Linked DNA regions of Homo sapiens. The protein of the gene in region 1 interacts with the protein of each later gene in a biochemical or structural test. Each region holds a gene or a part of one and is shown on either strand. Other genes may lie near its edges.

Region 1 (3,500 bases):
AGTCTCCTTAGCTTCCAAGATCAGATGAGGTCGGATGTGTTCAGGATGGTGTGGCCGTAACAAGCCATGCCTAATCCCGTAGCAGCTGGAGTGCCCTGGCCCTGTGCCCCGTGAGAATGCACCAGTCCCCTGGATCCTGGCTGGCTATCTACACACCTATCTCCCATAGACCTAGACACCTGCCTAGGGGCCCTCCTCTCACCCTGGCCCAGTATTGAGCAATTAGGGTTGGGGGATCCCAGTCACCCAGAGGAGGCACAGGGACCTGAACATTAAAACAAACAATGCGAACTAACAGAGGCAGTCGTATTTTGAATATCATTACCAAATTTGAAAAAAAAAAATGACAATGCCTATGGAAACCACACAAAGTGTGTTTGGCACTATCTATGATTTGGAAATTATCAAAGCCCACAGTCCTCGTAGAGGGCAGGGCGGTGGGGAGCAGGGTCCCCCGATATTGGTGGTCTGAGCACTTTCTTATCACTGCACAAACGCAAGGCAACTTAACAGTTTTGGGGGCAGATTGGCCATAAGTTTACCCGGAGCTGACACGGCGAAGTCAGTATCGGGACCAAAGGCCACATCAACCAGGTGTAATCTCCAGTCCAACAGGCCAGAAGCCACCTGAACACTGAGATCCACGTGGGGAACCAAGTGGCAGGCTGGCTCTGGCATCCCCAGGGATCTGGTGTGAACTCTGGCCCTGGGCACGTCACTCCATCGCTCTCAGCCAGCCTCAGTTTCCTTCTCCAAGAAGTGGGGATAATAACAGACCCTGGCAGATGAGCCTTGGGAGGCTTAATACATGTGAGATGCTTAATTCCTGGCATAGAGTCGGCCCTAGCACAGTCTCTAGCACATAGCGCTTAACAAAGGTGTTGTTATTATTCAGGACAGACGTATCAGACAAACTGATGGTGGGCTGGGAGTGGGGGTCTCCTGGGGAGAATCGTCTCCAGGCCGGCAGCAGCCTTTGGATCTCTGAGGGTCACAGATATTCAGCAGGGGACATTCCAGGGAGAAAGATCTGGGCTCAACTGAAAAGCACTTCTCTTTTTCTTTTCTTTTTTTTTTTTTTTTTTTGAGACAGGGTCTCACTCTGTCACCCAGGCTGGAGTGCAGTGGTGCAATGTTGGCTCACTGCAACCTCCACCTCCTGGGTTCAAGCGATTCTCCTGCCTCAGCCTCCCAAGTACAGCTGGGATTACAGGCATGCGCCACTATGCCTAGCTAATTTTTGTATTTTTATTTTATTTTTATTTTTTTATTTTTTATTTTTTTGAGACAGAGTCTCACTCTGTCACCAGGCCAGAGTGCAGTGGCACAATCTCAAGCTCACTGCAACCTCCAACTCACTGGTTCAAGCAATTCTCCTGCCTCAGCCTCCCAAGTAGCTGGGATTACAGGCGCTCACCACCACGCCCAACTAATTTTTGTATTTTTAGTAGAGATGGGGTTTCACCATGTTGGCCAGAATGGTCTCGATCTCCTGACCTCGTGATCTACCCGCCTCGGCCTCCTAAAGTGCTGGAATTACAGGCGTGAGCCACTGTGGCTGGCCCAAGAAGCACTTTTCAAAGTCCAAGCTCCCTAGAGAGGAGCTGCATTCTTCTGAGATTCTGTGAGGTCTCCATCATTGGAGGTGCATAAGCAACACTCACCTGGTCCCCCCCACCCATCTGGCTCTTCTCTACTCAGCTCTTCCCACCTGAGTCTTCTGGTGGCACCCAAAAGACTGCCCTGATCCAGACCCTGCCCCTAGAAATGCCACCTCTTATGGGCCCTGTGAGATGCCCACATCACTCTCTTGGCAGGGGGCCTAACGAGGACTCAGCCACTGCCCCAGGGACAGCCACAAGGAAGGCACCCCTCACCCCATCTGCCTTGGAGCTTCCTCTGAGCCCCCACCCGACCCTGCCATGGGACACTCACCGTTGGGAACTCCAGGAAGAGGACATGGACTTCAAGGATGGCATTGGGGGCCTGAGCCACGCAGCCCTTCGAGACCTGGCTAGTGGTATATGTCACCTCGCCCCTCTCGGGGCCCACAGGCTGAAGGTCACAATGGACTGTTTCTGCAAGACCTGTTGGAGAAACATCCGGAAAGAGGCCAGGTGAGAATAAGGTGATGACAATGACTCCTACTTTCCAAACGTCTCCTAGGGACTTGACATGAGCTAACGGCTTTCCTGCATCATCACAGCCACCTTATGAGGTGGATATCATTATATTCGTTCCATGGATTAAAAAAAACCAAGGCTAGGAGAGGAAACGTCTCCTGCCCAAGGTCACAGCGCTACTACGTATAGGGTCGATGAATAGAAGGACACCCAGCTAAATTTAAATTTCAGATAAACAATGAGTGCATTTTTTTAAGTATTAGTATATTGCAAATATTGCATGGAACGTACTTATACTAAATTTTCATTGTTTATCTGAAATTCGGATTTCACTGGGCCCCATGTATATATGTGTGTGTGTATATATACATACACACACATATACATAGATCTACATATATACATACATATATACATATATAGATATACATATATACACCCACACATCCACATACATATATATATATATATATATTTTTTTTTTTTTTTTTTTTTTTTTTTTTTTTTGAGATGGAGTTTTGCTCTTCTTGCCCAGGCTGGAGTGCAATGGTGTGATCTTGGCTCACCGCAACCTCCGCCTCCTGGGTTCAAATGATTCTCCTGCCTCAGCCTCCCAAGTAGCTGGGATTATAGGCATGCACCACCACACCCAGCTAATTTTGTATTTTTAGTAGCGATGGGGTTTCTCCATGTTGCTCAGGTTGGTCTCGAACTCCTGGCCTCAGGTGATCTGCCCACTTCGGCCTCCCAAAGTGCTGGGATTACAGGCGTGAGCCACCGTGCCCGGCCAGCCTCCTATATTTTTATTTTTTATTTATTTTTAAAAATTATTTTTTATTATTTATTTTATTTTATTTTTTTGAGACGGAGTTTTGCTCTTGTTGCCCAGGCTGGAGTGCAACAGTGTGATCTCGACTTACTGCAACCTCTGCCTCCTGGGTTCAAGTGATTCTCCTGCCTCAGCCTCCCGAGCAGCTAGGATTACAGGCATGCACCACCATGCCTGGCTAATTTTTTGTATTTTTAGTAAAGATGGGGCTTCTCCATGTTGGTCAGGCTCGTCTTGAACTCCCAACCTCAGGTGATCCGCCTGCCTTGGCCTCCCAAAGTGCTAGGATTACAGGCATGAGCCACTGCGCCTGGCCTATTTTTTATTTTTTTGAGACAGACTCTGCTCTGTTGCTCAGGCTGGAGTGCAGTGGCAAAATCATAGCTCACTGCAGCCTCAGCCTCAACCTCCCAGGCTCAAGTGATCCTCCCACCTCGGCCTCCTGAGTAGCTGGAACTATAGGCATGCACCACCACATCCAGCTAATTTTTGCATTTTTATAGAGATGAGGTTTCACCATGTTGCTCAAGCTGGTATTGAACTCCTGG
Region 2 (3,500 bases), on another chromosome or scaffold:
CCCACTCTTTCATTTTACCTTCCAGTGCAGCAGCCCTCTTTTCTCTTTCTTCTTCTTCAGCTCTCTCTTGCAGTTTTTTCTTATATGCAGATGTCACAAATGCTTCTTTATCATCAAACTCCCCCTTTTCCATTTCTCGTTCTCTCTGTATTTTCTTTTCCATTCTTTTTTCCTGTTCCTTTTTTCTGATCTCAACTGCTTTTAGCAAGTTGTGAATATACTTGGGCTAAGGAAATAAAAAAGATTTAGGAAAAGAGTAAAAAAATAGTAATTGTTAATATTATAATTTTTATAATGAATTCATTAAGATAGAAATGATTGGCCCAAATAAGATTGTCTTCCCTACATTCAATATAAACTTACTAGCAAGATTAATATTGAAACTGTTTTCCATAAAAATTTAGGTGTAGCAGAGATAGAAATTGTTTATAATGCGATTTAACTTTAATAAAACATCAAACTAAATATAATTTTTTTCTTTTTTCTGGTATTATCTTAATTAAAAAAAAATCAGAAAAGTTCCTGCTAGTTTTTCACATTTAGTAGAAATATGACTATTTAAAATAGTAGCTTAATATAATTTTATACCATCACTCTACTAGTAGATAACTGTCAGATGCAAATGCCCTTAAAAATCAGCCTGTGCTTGTGAAAGAACAAGAGTTGATAGAAAGAAAATCTGAACTTATTTCAGTTTTTACCCCTCCCAAATTTTTTTCTCACTGAAAATAAAATCATGATAGGTGCAGGCAGATGATTCAGTTACCAGCTAGGAAGAAATGAAAAAATGAGAGGGTAATAAAACACAAATAAACATACACAGGGCAGGAACAGTACAAATTTGGTACATTAGAATTCCAAGGAAAAGTTTTCAAAAAACTATTTGCAAAGGTTTCAAAGCAAAAAGCAAAATTGTTAGATAATTCACCTGGCCTATTAGGATAATATGTAGTGCTGCTTGAGTTCTACAATCAAATTTGTAATATCTGGAATTAGGGACTCTTCACACCTCACATACCTAAAAGCTTTTTCTCAGATCATTCTCATGTTAAAATAAGATTAAGACACAAAATGTAGGTCAAGGTCAAAGAAAGTTTGTTATTTCAGCTTACAAACCTTTCTGTCTTTCCCCAAAAGCAATTTGGGATTATTTTCCTCCTTTTTTTTCTGCATTTCATCATAAATACTGTCATATTCATACACAGTAGCATCTTCTGCAAGGGCCTTCTGGATTTCCAGTTTGGTCTTAAAAAAAAATTAAACATGTTTCAAAAATATGAGCCAGCCAATAGATACAACAAAGTCTATGCTTTTTGAGAATGGTTCATAAATTGAAAATATATCATAAAAATTACAATCACATTTTTAGATAGGAAATACAAATAAACTCTGGAGCCAGGCTGCCTGGGTATGAATGCTGGCTCTACACTTACTAATTACTCCGGGCAAGTTTGTTTGTAATCTTTTGGTACCTTAATTTCCTCATCTAGAAGAGAAAGAATAATGACTATATTTACATTCTAAGCTGTTATAATTAAATGACTAAACTTAAAACAGAGCCTGATAGAGAATAAGTATTCAATAAACATCAACTATTATTATCATTTATTCATTTGTATATAATTATACCCATCAAAAGGTCAAAAGGTACGATGGAAACACCTAACCTTGGTTTTGAGAGGCCTGTATTATATATTAAACTTTCATTATCATTTTTAGAGTTGTTAAACATAAAGTCTCTGCCTTTATCATGTTCCTTCCATCTCAAATGATGTTTTTTTCTCCTCTTTCAAGCGATCAAAATCTTACCCAGTGTTTCAGGGCCAGCCCTACTTCTTCTATGAGCCCATTTCTGAGGCCTCTAACCCCCAATGATCTTTCTTCTAAACTCTGAGGAACATTCTATTCTGCAATATTTACACTAGATTTTTTTTTTTTTTAAAGCGATGGGGTCTCGCTCTGTCGCACTGGCTGGAGTGCCAGTGGTGTGATCTTGGCTCACTGCAACCTCTGCCTCCCAGGCTTCAAGTGATCCTCTCACTTCAGCCACCCAAGTAGCTGGGACTACAGGCGTGTGCCACCATGCCTGGCTAATTTTTATATGTTTTGTAGAGACAGAGTTTCACCATGTTGCTCAGGCTGGTCTTGAACTCCTGGGCTCAAATGATCCACCCACCTCAGCGCCCCCCAAAGTGCTGGAATTACATGCGTGAGCCACCATGCCAGGCATGGGCGTTTTTACTTCCTGTTTTACAAATCTTAGCCTTTTGCCCCCGGTTGTAAATTCCTGAGGTACAGAGTCTACACACTTTGATTTTTTCCTCAATTGCTAGATTGGCTAATGTAGAACCCAAGAGGGATCCTTTTTAAGTGATAGGATGATATAATTATTCAAAAGAATCTATCTGATAGACTAGGGTTTTTACATACCAACATTTAAACTCTGAATAATGCACATGCTAACTGAAAAACTTTTTTTCTAGAATATTGTTTAAAATATTAAGAAATTCATTTTTTTCACTTCTCAACCTTTAGAAAGTGAAAGATTCTCCTGCCTAGATGTTGAATTGGCACTCCTGCTCACTCCCCAAAACCAGCCTGGATAACACAAAGAGGGAAACATGGAATCTAAGAAATAATCACCACTACAATAACAAAAAGCAAGGAAAAAGGGAGACTGAGGGCTGTTTTTTTTTTGGGGGGGGGGGGACGAAGTCTTGCACTGTTGTCCTGGCTGGTGTGCAGTGGTAGGATCTTGGCTCGCTGCAACCTCCGCCTCCTGGGTTCAAGCGATTCCCCTGCCTCAGCCTCCTGAGTAGCTAGGATTACAGGCACCTGCTACCATGCCTGGCTAATTTTTTGTATTTTTAGTAGAGACGGAGTTTCACTATGTTGGTCAAGCTGTTCTCGAACTCCTGACCTCGTGATCTACCCACCTTGGCCTTCCAAAGTACAGGGATTACATGCATGAGCCACTGCACCCGGCCAGGGCTGTTTTAAACTGATGACATGCCTTTGTATATGTTGGGAGGAGAGCTGTAGGGGAGCACTTGAGTAGATATGTTACTATTAACTATGTTGCAACATAAATAAAGCAAAAATTGAACAGATATTCAAGGAAAAATAGACAAATCCATAATCACAGTGGGAGATTTAACATATGCCTCTCAGTAACAGAACAGACAAAACAAAACAAAACAAAACAAAACAACAACAACAACAAAAAAAAACAGTATGAATATATATGGATTAACACAACTGGCCCAATGGACACATAGAGAACATTTTCTTTTTTCTTTTTTTTTGGGGGGGGGGTTCGGAGTCTTGCTCTGTTGCCTAGCCTGGAGTGCAGTGGCACCATCTTGGCTCACTGCAACCTCCACCTCCTGTGTTCAAGTGACTCTCCTGCCTCAGCCTCCTGAGTAGCTGGGACTACAGGTGCACACCACCATGCCCGGCTAATTTTTGTATCAATACAGAACATTTTCAAACACAGAGGA
Region 3 (4,051 bases), on another chromosome or scaffold:
AGATTTTTTGTTTTGAGACAGAGTCTTGCCCGGTCACCTAGGAGTACAGTGGCACAATCATAGCTCACTGTAACCTCAAACTCCTGGACTCAACCAATCCTCCTGCCTCAGCCTCCCGAGTAGCTGGGACTACAGATGCATGACACCACACTTGGCCAATGTTTTAATTTTTTTTTTTTTTTCTGTAGAGACAGAGTCTTGCTATGTTGCCAGGGCTGGTCTCGAAGTGGCCTCAAGCAATCCTCCCACCTCAGCCTCCCAAAGTGCTAGGATTACAGACGTGAGCAACCGCACCTGCAGATGGTTCTTATGCACAGCAATATTTGGGAACTACTGGACTAGATTACCTTTGATGGCCTTGTCAGCTCTATAATTCTATTCTAGGGTTTTAATGAAAAGGAATTTATATTAGAACATAATAGCCCAATGACAGGAGAAGGAGTGTGAGTTTATTCATTTTGACTTGGGACTTTTGTATGGTTGTAGACGGTCACATTTTGTACTGCATCTTACTGTGTGGATGTTAAAGAGTAAATGATAATTACTGGGGTTGTCCTTTTTATATCAATACACTAATTCCATGAAGGTCCTTCTAGCTTGTAACTTTGTGTAAAGCTGAAGCTACCTACATGTTAATTCTGTCTCCATCATATGATTCTGCCATCACAGAAAACCCATGAAACATTACGACAGTAAACATTGGCTTAATGGAATGAGGCAGAAGGATTTTCCTGGTACTGAGGGGAGGGGTCCCCTTCTAGAAAATGGAAAGGAAATGATCGTTTACTATGGCTGAGAGCTGGATTTGTCACGAATTGAAGCTGAGGATCTTTATCGAGCCTTCCCCACCTCCACCTGTGAGATCTGAAATACTGGAAAACTTGGAATTATTACCCTGGGATTTTTCTGATAGACATTTTTAGATTATATAAAATATGTGTATATATCCCTAGCCCTATTCTCAGTACTCTTACCAGATGATACTGAATATTCTAGGAGTATTTGCAGGAGAATTCTTTTAGATATTGCAGTTATATTCTTTCTCTTATTCTGGATATTAATCTGATTTTCAAATATGCATTCATGTCTGAGACTGAAAGTCTCGAGTTCCTGGTAGTGGCTGTTTTTATACCTAGTCATCTGACTGAGAATATGGTGCCCTAAGCTCTTGAGGGTAATCACTTAAATACATCTCCCTTAATCTTCTTTGCTGGGCAGTGAGAAAAGGAGACAGTAAGGAGCCAGGGGAACAGAGAGAATTGTGGGGCAGCACCGCTCCTTGGGTCCCCACTCCCCATTTCTCATTGCTTGGAAATCCATGCCAAGATGCCTGCCTTCCTTGGTCTAAAGTGTCTGGGGAAATTGTGCAGCTCTGAGAAAAGCAAAGTCACCTCATCTGAGAGAACCAGTGCCAGGGGCTCGAACAGAAAGAGACTGATTGTTGAGGACCGGAGGGTCTCTGGGACCTCCTTCACCGCTCATAGGCGTGCCACTATCACTCATTTGCTGTATCTCTGTCCCAAGGACTACTGCCCACGTGGGCGTGTATGTAACAGCGTTGATCCTTTTGGTAAGTAAAATAACCCTCTCTGGACATGGTTTTGTGTTTTGTGATTGGCGTAATTAAGAGAGTACTATCCAGATCATTCTTCTGTAATGTGTTCTTCAAAGGAAACACTATCCTTAATATATAATTAATGGGGGTGAGGGTGGGAGAGATGGAGAATGTAACATAAGTGTAGCTACGGAGCTAAATCCCAAGGATATTTTTGTCCAGGATTTTATGATCTTCAGTAACAAATGTATCTCTTTCCAAACTTGGTATGAATAATTGTCAGTAATAGGAAGTATGATGGAAAAGAAAGATCTCTATCTGTAGATGTTATTATTTCATATGACAAAGGATGAATGGAAAGGAAATATTCAAGGGGGGAGATGGAGGCTAGCAAAAGATAAGTAAAGTTGAGGTCCAAATTGTGTCACTGTGTAGGGAGGGCTCGTCTTGTGAAATGTTCTAAAAAAGAAATAAAATAAAAAGAAAGTGTTTTAATATTGAGAGAACTTGTTGAGGCTTCTTTTCAGTGAAGCTCATTAAAACGTGTCACTCATCCCTCTGCCTGGGAAAGAGGTGGAGAAGGCCCACTCTGAGGATAGAGTTATTGCACTTGGGAGTTTTCAGACTTTGAAGTTATCATGGTGCCTTTGTTAATGAAGATGATACCTACCCAACTGCTCACACCTTGTCAAAGTCAGACCTAGAATTGGTACAGGAAGCAGAAGGCAATTAACCATGGTCCCTACGAATGTATGAAGTTAAGTCAAATAAGCCAGGAAGCATAACGCATTCCTCGTCATTCTTGGACAGCCAGAGTTGAATTGGATTCAGTTTAGCTGAAGTACTGGAGTTAAGATGTTCTGTTTTGTTGCAATCAGCTTTCAACAGCTTTATTGAGTTATAATTCATATGCTGTAAAATTCATCCATTTAAAGTCTATAGTTCAGCGAGTTTTAGTATGCAACTGATATGTTACATATATATTTTCATTGCCTCAAAAAGAAACCCTGTACCCTTTAGCTATCGCCTCCCCACCCCAACCTCTTCATCCCCATCTCTCAGCCTTAAGAAATCAAAATCTACTTTCTGCCTCTTAGATTTCCCTATTCTGGATATTTCATGTGAATGGAATTTATAATCTGTGGTCTTTCGTTTATGGCTTCTTTCACTTAGCATGTTTTCAGGGTTTACCCATGTTGTAGCACGTGTCAGTACTTTATTCCTTGTTATGGCCAAATACTATTTCACCGTATAGATATTCCACAATTTGTTTCTGCTTACACCAGCTGATGGACATTTGGGATGTTTCCAACTTTTGGATTTTATGAATAATGCCTCTATGCATATCCATATACAAGGTTTTTTTTTCTTTTTTCGTGTCAGATGGGTAATGTGCCAATGTCATAACAAGGTTCGAGGGTGGCTCACCTCACACACGCGTGTGTGAACACATCAAAAGGATCATCATATACAGGTTTTTATGTGGACATATGATATGTTCAGGGCTCTTGGGTGTATACCTAGGTGTGGAATTTCTGGGTCATATAATAACTATGTCTAACCTTCTGAAGGACTTCTAGATTATTTCACAAAGCAGTTACTCCATTTTACATTCCCACCAGCAGCATATTAAGGTCCCAGTTTCTCCACATCCTTGCTAACACTTGCTATTATCTGCCTTTTTTTTTTTTTTTTTTTTTTTGAGACGGAGTTTTGCTTTGTTGCCCAGGCTAGAGTGTAATGGCGTGATCTCGGCTCACTGCAACCTCTGCCTCCTGAGTTCAAATGATTCTCCTGCCTCAGCCTCCCAAGTAGTTTGGATTACCGGCATGTGCCACCACACCTGGCTAATTTTGTATTTTTAGTAGAGATGGGGTTTCACCATGTTGGCCAGGCTGGTCTGGAACTCCTGACCTCAGGTGACCTGCCTGCCTCCACCTCCCAAAGTGGTGGGATTATAGGCATGAGCCACCGCGCCCGGCCTTATCTGACTTTTTTATTCTAGCCATCCTAGTGGGTGTGAAGCGGTATCTCACTGTGCCTATACAGAGCTTTGGCTGGGACAGAGAGGGCTGACAAGCAGATCAGTGCTCAGGCAAGACAGGATACCGACTTCGACAGCTGCTGATGGTAACAGCTCCTTGTCTCTTACTCTTAACAGTCTTCTCTTCATGATTCCAGGCACATTCCTTTTTAGGGGAGCAGGGAGCGGGGATGAAGAAGCCATGCCTTCTGCCCAGTCCCCTTACAAGCTCTGCTAAGAAGACTTTGTTCAGAACCAGCTGAGTATGCCTATTGTAGCAAATGACACCTCCCTCAAAAATCAGATCCACATACTAGGGGATACCTAGAATCCCTTTATTGAGGAAAAAATGTTTTATTCCACAAATAGGAATAAAAATGAAACATGTAGATTTCTGCTGGAGCTAACACTTTATTCTGAATGACTTCGATGCTTCTATGGAATGTTTCTACTCAAACAGACTCAAATCAGAT
Region 4 (3,500 bases), on another chromosome or scaffold:
CCAAGACAACAATCCCTGAGAGCTCCCTGACTGCCCCTGCTCACTGCCTAGATTCCCAGGCAATGGGGGATGGGTAAGACAGCACTGAGATTCTGAGACCAAGACAGAGAGAAATCACGGAACTGAGTATCAGAGAGGACACAGCCACACAGAGCCACGCAGAGCAAGCTGAAGAGACCCACAGAGGGTTCCTCCCACCCAGTGCACACGTGTGCGAGGAAACCAGAGGCTGGGACAGCACCACCCATAAGGAGCAGAGGGAACAATCAGGAGCAGAGGGAACAACCACTGGAGGGGCACTCAGGGCCACAAATGGTTTGCTCTTCCCAATAGCCAGGGTGGAAAGGCTGGTAATTCACGGGCCATCAGACCCACTACTCAGAGGGCACTGCCCAGTGGTGAGACAAAATCAGCCCAAACTGAAGGCTACTTTGGCCCTGCCTTAGTGTGTGTCCAGTACCTCAGCTGTGTCCCAGAAAAAAGCTCAAGGGTATTTGTAGAGATACAAGTATAACTAGCACCCAAAAAATACAATTCACAACATCCAGTAAAAAATTACCAGGCACAGGCTGGGCACAGTGGCTCATGCCTGTAATCCCAGCACTTTGTGAGGCCAAGGCAGGTAGATCACTTGAGGCCAGGTGTTCAAAACCAGCCTGGGCAACACAGAGAAACCACATCTGTACCAAAAATTTTAAAAATTAGCTGGGTGTAGTGGTACATGCCTGTGGTCTCAGCTACTCAGGAGGCTGAGGTGAGAGGATCGCTTGAGCCCGGGAGCTCGAGGCTGCAGTGAGCACCACTGTACTCCAGCCTGGGTGACACAGTGAGATCCTGTCTCTAAGGGAAAACAAAACAAAACAAAAAAACCAGAAGAAACTTAAAAGCAGCCACAGAAAAAGAGAGAGAAAAGACACAAATTGGTAACTGAAGGAACAAAGATTAAATTAACCTAGAATTCTATACCCAGTGAAAATTTATTTCAAAATGAAGACAAAGTAAAGACTTTTTCTGACATGCAAAAGAAACAAGAACGTATCACCAGCAAACCTGCACTACAGGAAACATTCAATTCCTTCAGGAGGGAGGAAGATGATCTCCGATGGGAACTTGGATATACAACAAAAAGCAACGAAGAGCACCTGGTGAGGTGAACATGATTTTTTCCTGTCATTTCTGGGTCTCTTTAAAATATAACTGTTTGGCTGGGCGTGGTGGCTCACGCCTGTAATCTCAGCACTTTGGGAGGCCGAGGTGGGAGGATCACGAGGTCAGGAGATCAAGACCATCCTGACTAACACAGTGAAACCCCATCTCTACTTAAAATACAAAAAATTAGCCAGGCCTGGTGGCGGGCACCTGTAGTTCCAGCTACTTGGGAGGCTGAGGCAGGAGAATGGCATGAACCCAGGAGGCAGAGCTTGCAGTGAGCCGAGATCGCGCCACTGCACTCCAGCCTAGGCGACAGAGCGAGACTCCGTCTCAAAAACAAACAAAAACAAAAACAAAAACAAAAAAAAACACAACTGTTCAAAGCAAAAAAGCCAAACCACAACAAGTCAAAGCCAATAAAATATTGGGTGACTTCTTAAAGAGAAGTAAACCGTATGACAATAACATCACAAAGATCGACGGGAGGGGAAATGCAAGTATATTCCCACAGAGTTCTTGCACTACGCTGAAACCAACAGAGCACCCCTTGCAGACAGACTGTAAGGGAAGATGTGTACTGTAATCCTACAGTAAACCACAATGACACAGAGTTAGAGCAAATAAGCCATCAGTCATAAAAAGGACTCGACCCACAAGAAGGCAGATAAATGGGAAAAAGAGATCAATAAACAAACATGAACAGAAAATAGAGAACAAGACAGTAGATCTAACGCCAAGCCCACCACCACTGGCGCGCAGAGTAAACATTTCCCCGGGACACAGGAGTCCTGGTCTCTGCCCTATCTCTGACTCAGGGCATCAACCTAAGCAAGGCATTCCCCGTCTCTGGACCTCATGGCCCCAACTGTGAAATGACAAGGTGGAACCCACAAGCTTGAGGTTCCCATCTGACGTCCTTGGTTTTGACCACACAAATGGAGGAGTCAAGGCTCTGCCTGAATCTGTCCAGGGCCAAAGGGACAGAAGACTCTCCTGAGAGAAACACAGATGCCACTTCCCATTCTACCTTCCCATCAAATTAATCATCCTTACAAGTATATCTCTTCTGATGACAGACAAAACCCAAATGAGAGCAGGCACCATACTAAGCTTGTATGTCCCTATCCCTGAGCTATGCCATCCGCCCTGGAGGCTCTGCATACTTCAGTCAAGTAGCTGAGTGGTGTCCTGCCCCTCTGGCCTTCCTACGTCCTTCTGTTTTTGTCCAGAGCTGAGCCCCACAGGTAAGGCCAACTCTGTCACTCACGCCTCAGCTGAATGTCACTTCTTCAGCGAGCTCTGCTGAAGCTGCCTCCCAAATCTAAACACGGCCTCCCCAACACACTGACGGCGTGCTCTAATATTCCTTAATACGCTCATCACAACACATCATATGTGTTTATTTCTTAAATGGTCTTTTTCCCGCCAGACTAAAAAATCTGTGATGACAGTGACCACGTATGTTTACCTCTGCTTAATCATCAGTGTCCGAGTGAAGTCAACAAAGTAACTGAATAAACAGGTTATTCATGGCTATAAGAATTTCCTAAGCCCTTGCTGAACACACAGACTGTTCAGAGAAAAATTGAACAGCACGCTTTCTCCGGGTCCTGTCCGCTTCTTAAGCAATGAAACATTAACCAACACCTGATCGGGTGACACAGACCTAGACAAAGGAACGGCTTCTGTAGCCAGAAAACTGTGTCAGACAGGGCCCACTCTGCCTGGAATCAGGGCACCCTCCAGACACTAAATGGTCCGAACCTTGTCCCTTGGAAGCCACTCCCCAGAGGCACCCAGGAGACCAGGGCAGTGCCAATTGCTTACCAGAAGACTCTTGGCTAGGCGCGGTGGCTCACGCCTGTAATCCCAGCATTTTGGGAGGCCAAGCAGGCAGATCACATAGGTCAGGAGTTGGAGACCAGTCTGGCCAACATGGCGAAACCCCATCTCTACTGAAAATACAAAAATTAGCCAGGCATGGTGGTGGGTGCCTGTAATCCCAGCTACTCGAGAAGCTAAGGCACGAGAATCACTTGAACCTGGGAGGGAGGCGGAGGCTGCAGTGAGCCAAGATCACACCACTGCACTTCAGCCTGGGCAACAGAGCGAGACGCAGTCTCAAAAAAAAAAAAAAAAAAAAAAAGAACAACAAACAAACAAAAAAAGAAGACTCTTAATTAATTTCAAACAGTGGAATCATTTTAAATTGTCCTCACCTTCCTTTGGAAAGCTGCTGAATTGTACTATTTTTCTCCCACCCCCATGAGCAGCATCTTAGTGATTTATTTTTGAACCACGATCATGTTCTAGTTATGAGACTATATACTTAAAATGCTAAATGATAT

Evidence for each region.
Region 2: the proteins of ENG (region 1) and NSRP1 interact on a protein array, tested with the Homo sapiens proteins (one large-scale study listed by IntAct).
Region 3: the proteins of ENG (region 1) and ABLIM1 interact on a protein array, tested with the Homo sapiens proteins (one large-scale study listed by IntAct).
Region 4: the proteins of ENG (region 1) and SAFB2 interact on a protein array, tested with the Homo sapiens proteins (one large-scale study listed by IntAct).

What each region holds. Positions count from the first base shown.
Region 1 is NC_000009.12:127,841,159-127,844,658, forward strand, and holds part of ENG (endoglin isoform 1 precursor), read right to left. Parts: intron 2,088-3,500; coding exon 1,936-2,087; intron 1-1,935. UniProt on the Homo sapiens protein: Vascular endothelium glycoprotein that plays an important role in the regulation of angiogenesis. Required for normal structure and integrity of adult vasculature. Regulates the migration of vascular endothelial cells.
Region 2 is NC_000017.11:30,175,816-30,179,315, reverse strand, and holds part of NSRP1 (nuclear speckle splicing regulatory protein 1), read right to left. Parts: intron 1,246-3,500; coding exon 1,117-1,245; intron 227-1,116; coding exon 19-226; intron 1-18. UniProt on the Homo sapiens protein: RNA-binding protein that mediates pre-mRNA alternative splicing regulation.
Region 3 is NC_000010.11:114,655,476-114,659,526, reverse strand, and holds the start of ABLIM1 (actin-binding LIM protein 1), read left to right. Parts: upstream 1-1,251; 5' UTR 1,252-1,326; coding exon 1,327-1,570; intron 1,571-2,932; exon of another isoform or gene 2,933-3,032; intron 3,033-4,051. UniProt on the Homo sapiens protein: May act as scaffold protein. May play a role in the development of the retina. Has been suggested to play a role in axon guidance.
Region 4 is NC_000019.10:5,605,777-5,609,276, forward strand, and holds part of SAFB2 (scaffold attachment factor B2), read right to left. Parts: intron 1-3,500. UniProt on the Homo sapiens protein: Binds to scaffold/matrix attachment region (S/MAR) DNA. Can function as an estrogen receptor corepressor and can also inhibit cell proliferation.